2 linked regions of the Homo sapiens genome follow. The protein of the gene in region 1 interacts with the protein of each later gene in a pairwise test. Each region holds a gene or a part of one and is shown on either strand. Other genes may lie near its edges. The genes, in order: RAI1 and ZNF496.

Region 1 (3,810 bases):
CAGGAACCTGCAGGAGTCCTGTCGGGGCCAGCCTTCCTCTGAGGTGGAGGGTGGAGTGAGGTGGGCAGGGCGTCTGGGCGTGGAGAAGGTCTCCAGCCATCCCCATGGGCAGTGGGAAGCAGGTGCCCAAGACACACACTAGGAGGCGTGGGTGGCAAACACAGTGGGCCCCCACCGGGACCTTGGTTTGGCCAGGCAATGCCACGGCAACTGTCAGGAGCAGGGGCTGCTCAGAGGGGCTGCAGGGGTGTACTGCGAGGAGCAGGTGGGCAGTGCAGCGACGGGGGAGGAGGCTGGGCAGGGGGAGGGGCGAAGCCACCGGCTGGGGCCACTGTGCTGGGTCACTGAATCACTCAGATGCAGGCAGTGTTTGTCCAGGGCCTCTGGAGACCCCTGCCAAGCCCCTCTGGCTCCCCTGTGACCTCAGCCGCACATAGTGGGTTGAAGGAAGGAGTGGAGGGGATGGGACTCAGGGCAGGGGCCAGAGAAGGCTGCAGGCGTCCCCACTGAGAGCCACCACACAGCGCTGAGAGCCGGGAGCGTCACTCCACGGAAGTCTGGATGAGGCAGTGGAGTCGGGGTTGAATGTGGGGGCAGAAGCATGGCCCCGGGGGAGAGGTGCACCCCACCGCCCCCACTGACCCCTCCCTCAGAAGGGCACAGAGGTACTCTATGGTACTGGGGAAGTGGTGACACCACGAAGAACGTCACCCTGCTGTCACCAGAGCCACCAGGCCCCTCTGCACTGACTATCACAGGGCTGCTGTGCTCGGTGGGCTCAGAGGTGCCCACCTTTTAACCCTCCCGACCCCTCCTCCATGGGCACCCTCATACCCACGTTAGGGGCGAGGGGACGGAGGCACAGAGAGGGCAGGTCACAGCCCCAAAGGTGCATGGCGGCACAGCCCCAGAGTTCCCTCTCTCATGTTGGTGCTCAGTGACTATGGCTTCCAAAGCTGGTCTCAGAGCCAATGGTGAGAGGGTCTGGATCTGCCCCGCCCTGCCTGTTGTGACTGTGTGACCCCATGGACTGTCCTGCAGAGGGAGGAACCCTGTGACTGGGTCCATGCACCAAGCCTGTGTCGCCAGAGAGGGTCTTCCTGAGCCCTTAGCTTCATCCCAGAGGCAATGGAGACAGGAACAGAGGGTGGGCAACTTGCTCTTGCACCGCCCGGGGCAGCCCTGATGTTCAATCTTGGGAGTCCTCGTGTTCTCTGGGCCTTGGCATCTCCGGTGACAGCATGGGGAGGGGCCCAGTGGATTCTGGGTGGGGCTGGAGCCTGAAGATGCCAGGTGAGTGGGAGAGTGGCGGTGGCTGGGCATACGGGCCCCGGCGGGAAGTCTCCTGGGACAGGGTAGGTGAGTGTGACCTGCCTTAGCCAGATGGGTGCCTCCACTTCCCCCACACACCCCAGAGAGGCTCAGGACTCTGCAGATTGTCCCGAGACTGCAGACACATTTGGCCCACACTGTAGCACTAGAAACAAGGGGCTCCCCGACTGCCTGCCTGCCTGTCCTTTGGAACCCCACACTCCCCACCCTGGCTGGGCTGGCCTCTTACCATGTCCACGGCCACCTTCATGGCCTCCTGCAGCCCAAAGAGCTTCCCGGCCACCAGGTAGACGCCGCCGGTCCACACGGCACAGGCCTCATGCACCCAGTGCTCCTGGGCCTCCCCGCCGGGCTCTGCCGGAGCCTCCTTGCTGCACTCATGTTTGCGACCCTTGTCGGCTGGGGCTGCCTCCTCGCCCCCATCCTCCCGGCCATCACAGCAGTAGCAGCTCTGCAGCCTCCGGGACAGGCCCCGGGCACTGGTGCGCAGTGGGCCCTGCTTGGCCGGGTCAGCTGGGCCGTCAGGCCTGGGGGGCTTCCCGGCAGTGGCGGCAGCTGCACACTCGGGACCTTTGAGTGTTCTCTCAAGCGGCAGCGAGGCCTCCTCACAGGTGCCTTCTGGCCGCACCTTCTCCTTGAGTTTTGGCTTCTTTTTGGGGAGGCAGTGTTCAGGGTAGTAGGGCCCACAGAGGTCCCCAAGGTCCTTGAAGTTGGCCGGGTTTTGGCAGAGGCAGCAAACAAGGCAAGAGGTACTCAGGGCCTTGGAAACCACAGGCCCCAAGTGCATCGTGGAGGAGAGGGGCAAGGAGGGCCGCGGCTGCAGGATGGAGCCTCCAGGGAGTGTGGCCAGGGAGGCCCCGGCTGCATCCAAGGAGAACGAGGACGAGGATGAGGAAGAGGAGGCAGAGGAGGAAGGCTTCCTGTGGGGCTTGGGCGCATCTCCAGGGGAGTTGACAACAGTGCATATGGTGGTGAACGCGTCTCGCTTCTCCACCCGCACGAAGGGTGAGAAGGCGGGGGTCCGGCTGTCTGACCTCAGCCGCTTGCAAGAGGAAATGTACTTGAGGCGGATTTCAGGCTCTGCGGGATCCAGGGGCAGCACCTGCTGCTGTCGTCGTCGCTTGGCACGCCCCTTACAGGGTGAAGAGGTGGTGTTCTTGGCCCGGCCCCGAGTGAGGCGCTTCCGCTTGGAATAGCTGCTGTAGTTGGTGTGGCCTGGCTGTTTCTGTGCCCTTGTCTGGGGCTGGCAGGGCCTGCCCTCCGGGGGCTGGGAGGCCAGGCCCAGCTCCTCCATCTTTGGCTTCTTGCCTCCTCCACCAGAGTTGTCCTCACTGGCCCCTTGTGTGCCACTGGCCCTGTCTCGGGGAGTCAGGAGCAGAGCCGGGCCAAGATAGGGCCGCTTCTCCAGCGGGCCTTTGGAGAGTCCATGGGCCCCTGCCCGGCCTTTCCGGCTCCTCTTCTTAGGCGCCAGGGCAGTCCCCCCAGGCTGCAGGGCCTCCGGGGATGTGAAGGCCTCGGTTTTGAAACAGTCAGTAGAAGACAGTTTCTTACTGTTCATGAGTTTGCCTTTTAAGGATCTGTTGGTTGGATTTCTGCATAACGGATCAGCCCCAGAAGTTGGGAGCTTCTGCCCGGTGCCCACATTTACCAGGCCTTCTTCCACCCCCACTGGGCTGCCCCCAGCACCCTTGAGCCCACGGTCTTTGTCGGAAAGGGATGGGCTCAGAGGATTACCAGGAGAGGCCCCTGGCGCTTTACATGCGAACTTCTTGAGGCTGGGCGAGGTGATCTTCTGCACGATGGCTTCCAGCTTCAGGCCCCGGCCCTTCCGGGGTGGCAGCACCTTGGTCTTCATGGCCCCCTGGAAGGCTGCCCGAGAGGCGAGCTTGAGGCAGGCATCGGGGGTCTCCGGGGGTGGGAGCTTTGTGGCAGGCTCGCCATTGCCCTTGGTGGGCTTGGCTTTCTTGGGAGAAGACATCCTCTTGAAGAGGGTGGGGGAACCCTCAGGCCTCTCCTCCTTCCCATCTCCCCCATTGCCACTGGCGTTGCTGCTGCTGCTGCTGCGGCTCCGCAAGACCAGGTTCCGCTTCTTGGTGGGGACCGGCGCCATGAAGGCCGACTTCCTTTTGAGCGCATGGAGGGGCCGGTCAGAGAGCTTGCTGCCTGCACCAGGTTTGGGGACCCTTGCCCGCTGGCTCACCCTGCCCTCCTTCTGGGGGCTGCTGGAGACCTTGAATGTGGCGGGCAAGTGGCTGTTGTCGAGGAGCTTCTTGGTGGCACGGCAGTTGGGGAGCCGGCCCTCAGAGGGCCTCCGCCGCTTGGAGTGGAAGATCTCCTGGGTTTTGGTGCGTGACCGAAGGATCATGGAGCGCTGGTCCTTGCCAGGCGTGCTGGGTGAGTCTGTCTCCTTGGTCTTGGAGCCCATCGGGCTGCTGTCGGAGGCCACAGGCAGGGCGGCCGGGTTGCTGGGGCTGGAGG
Region 2 (3,810 bases), on another chromosome or scaffold:
TGAAAGGAAAAGAGATGGGATGAAATAAAAGAAGGCTAGGACTTCTGGGATTCTACAAACTGGCCGATAGATCTATCTGGCTATGAATATGTACTATCCTTCAAGAAAAGGGAAGAATGACTCCAAAGGTGGCTCAGAGGTTACAGGACTGCCACTGTCATCATGGGACCAGAGAGTACAGGCTCAGGAGGTGAAGTCATTTCCTTCTGAGTTCCAAAGAGCAGGGCCAGTAGCCTGCTGGGCCTGGAGAACAGAGAACTGAGCCAGAGGTTATTGCTGAGCCTTAAAATCCCATGGAAATGACCTGCTAGATTTTTTTTTTTTTTTTTTGAGATGGGGTTTCGCTCTTGCTGCCCAGGCTGGAGTGCAATGGCATGATCTTGGCTCACTGCAACCTCTGCCTCCTGGGTTCAAGCAATTCTCCTGCCTCAGCCTCCTGAGTAGCTGGGATTACAGGTGTGTGCCACCACGTCTGGCTAATTTTTGTATTTTTAGTAGAGAGAGGGTTTCCCCATTTTTGCCAGTGCAGTCTCGAACTACTGACCTCAGGTGATCCGCCTGCCTCGGCCTCCCAAAGTGCTGGGATTATAGGCACGAGCCACACCACACCTAGCCCTGACCTGCTAGATTTAAGACTTGCTTGGGACCCATTACCCTTTCTTCTCTTGGATTTCTCTATTTTGGAATGAGAATGGTCTATGCTATGCTTTTCTCACAGTTGTATTTTGGAAGCAAAAAACATCTGGTTTCACAGTTCATAGCTGGAGAGGGTTTTGCCTCAGGATGAATCATACTTCAAGTCTAACCCATACCTGATTTGAGATGTTGATATTTAGATGAGATTTTGGACTTACAGTTGATGCTGAAACAGGTTGAGAATTTGGGGGCTGTTGGGATGAGGTGAATGGATTGTGCATGTGGGAAAGACATGAATTTTGAAGGTCCTGAGGGTGAGGTCTTACAGGGGATGAATTGTGTTGTCCCAAAATTTCATGTTGAAGTCCTAACCCTAAGGACCTCAGAATGTGACTGTATTTGAAGATAGGCTCTTTCAAGATGTAATTAAGTGAACATGACGACATATGGGTGGGTGGGCTCCCACATATGGTGGGAGGCCGAGGCAGGAAAATTGCTGGAACACGGGAGGCAGAGGTTGCAGTAAGCCAAGATCGCGCCACTGTTCTCTAACCTGGGTGACAGAGCTAGACTCCGTCTGAAAAAAAAGAAAAGAGCTATTGGTCTAACTGCCAGTATATGCATTAAACCATTTAATCCTTAGCAATAACTGTACAAGGCAGCTTTAACTATTATTTCTGTTTTCCAAATAAAAAATGTAAGGCAGAAAAGTGAAATTGCCCAAGGTTTCAGGGGAATTGAGCCAGTGGAGATGGGACCAGGGCTCGTGGCCACATAGCTAGCAGGCAGCCAGGCTGCTGCAAGTGCTTGTTGCAGGCGGAGTGGCAAAGGCATGCAGCGTGCAGGTAACTCCATGACTATCGCCTCAGGAAGGATGCTCTGGCCAGGAATGAATGACTTCCTGCGAGCTGAGGGGATTAAGGGGAACAGCAGGGGAGACTAGGAAGCTGGATGTGAAAAACCAAAATGATAAAGGCATTATTAAAAACTGTAAAATATTCTTGTAAAGTTAGAATGGGGAAGCTTTCTCAAGCAAGGCATAAAACCAAAAAGATGACGAATAAGTGTACCTACAGTTAAAAACTGTAAGAAAACATTTAAGCCAGGCATGATGGCACACGCCTGTAGTCTCCCCAGCTATTTGGGAAGCCAAAGCAGAAAGGCTGCTTGAGCCCAAGACTTCAAGACCAGTCTAGGCAACATAAAGAGACCCCATCTTTAAAAAACAAAACAAAACAAAACAAAACATTTATATGCTGCAAGACACATAAACAAAGTTGAGGGAAATGGAAGAAACTATGTATGAATACAGCAGAGGCAAGGGATTCAGACCCAAAACTACAACGACACGTGGGTTCAGGTAAGAATCAGAGACTTGGATTTGGTATTTAGAAGAACCTATGAAAGATGGCAGTTTCTATGAATCCACAGAAAAAGCAAACCGTGGTTTGGTAATGTAGAGTAAAAGCCATGGGTCTGAAGCCTGACAGCCTGAGTTCAAATCTTTTTTTTTTTTTTTAAGATGGAGTCTTGCTCCGTGTCCCAGGCTGGAGCGCAGTGGCGTGATCTTGGCTCACTGCAACCTCTACCTCCTGAGTTCAAGCAATTCTCTCTGCCTCAGCCTCCCAAGCAGCTGGGATTATAGGTGCCCACCACCACGCCTGGTTAATTTTTATATTTTTTAGTGGAGATGGGGTTTCGCCATATTGGCCAGGCTGGTCTTGAACTCCTGACCTCAGCGATCTGCCTGCCTCAGCCTCTCAATGTGCTGGGATTACAGGCGTGAGCCACTGCACCTGGCCGTTTTTTTTTTCTTTTTCTTTTTTTTTTTGGAGACAGACTCTCGCTCTGTTGTCCAGACTGGAGTGCAGTGTCATGATTTCTGCAGCCTTGACCTCCCAGGTTCAAGCGATTCTCCTGCCTGAGCCTCCCCAGTAGCTGAGACTACAGGTGTCTGCCACTGTGCCTGGCTAATTTTTGTATTTTTAGTAGAGACAGGTTTCGCCATGTTGGCCAGGCTGGTCTTGAACTCCTAACCTCAGGCGATCTGCCCGCCTCGGCCTCCCAAAGTGCTGAGATTACAGGCATGAACCACTGCGCCCAGCCTGAGTTCAAATCTTCACTCCACCACCTACAGCTTGTGAGCACTGGACTCTGGGCAAGTGACTTCAGCTCTCGGGTGCCCCAGCTGCAATACAGAGACATCATGCCACCTATCTCAGAAGGTGCCATGAAGATACAATGCACAGAATCATGTCATCATGTAAATCACTGAATCCTGGTGCAATGTTTAGGACATAAAGAAAACAAGTATGAGTGCAAAAATAAATAAATAAGGATAAATGAATACTAACTAGGCAATTCATAGAACACAATAAACAAGAAAAGATATTCCACCTCAGTGGCGGATGTAGTAGCATTATTTGATTGGCACAAACTGAACATCTGGGAGTGTCCTGCGTGGGCATGGATATAGAGAAGCAGACCTTATCACCAGCTATCCGGCATCAGCTGGCGGGAAAAGCCTTTTAGGAAGGCAAGCTGGCAGGAGCTACCAAAATAAGTACAGTGCCCACTCTTTGAAATATATCGTCTCTCCCCTTTCTCAGTAGCAACCCTTGGCTTCTGGCTGTTTCAGAGCAGTCTGTGTCAGAGTCCAGCAAGGGAAGAATGGAGTTGAAAACTCCTGTGTATAAATGAACATCCATCCATCTTCTAAAAGTATATTGATGGGGCTGAGAGACATGCTATGGGCAGAAAGAAGCTAGAGAAGATTCAAAGTGCACCACAAACATCAGGCCTGCGCTTGAACTCCAAGTGGACCCCAAATGAATGCATCACTCTTGGCACGCAGAGGTGGGCTTCTTAGAAAACCAGGGGTGGGCATCCATGCTTGTGGAGCAGGATCTCATCCTTTCAGATCTCCCACACTAGAAAAGCCCCTTTGTCCATGCATGAAAGGGGGCCAAGTACAAGATGCATGGAGCTGGGTCAAAATGGCATAAATCTTGCCTTCAAAAGCATCACAGGTAGAAGAGATAATATGTGTGAGTTGGTCTCCATAGCTGCAGAAAACTACAATGACACGTGGGTTCAGGTAAGAATCAGAGGCTTGGGTTTTGTATTGAGAAGAGAAAGATGGCAGTATTGTAGCCTCTGCTTCTGGAAGTGGTG

The links.
Region 2: the proteins of RAI1 (region 1) and ZNF496 interact in a two-hybrid assay, tested with the Homo sapiens proteins (one large-scale study listed by BioGRID and IntAct).

The regions. Positions count from the first base shown.
Region 1 is NC_000017.11:17,796,265-17,800,074, reverse strand, and holds part of RAI1 (retinoic acid-induced protein 1), read right to left. Parts: coding exon 1,562-3,810; intron 1-1,561. UniProt on the Homo sapiens protein: Transcriptional regulator of the circadian clock components: CLOCK, BMAL1, BMAL2, PER1/3, CRY1/2, NR1D1/2 and RORA/C. Positively regulates the transcriptional activity of CLOCK a core component of the circadian clock.
Region 2 is NC_000001.11:247,304,059-247,307,868, forward strand, and holds part of ZNF496 (zinc finger protein 496), read right to left. Parts: exon of another isoform or gene 2,644-3,810; intron 1-2,643. UniProt on the Homo sapiens protein: DNA-binding transcription factor that can both act as an activator and a repressor.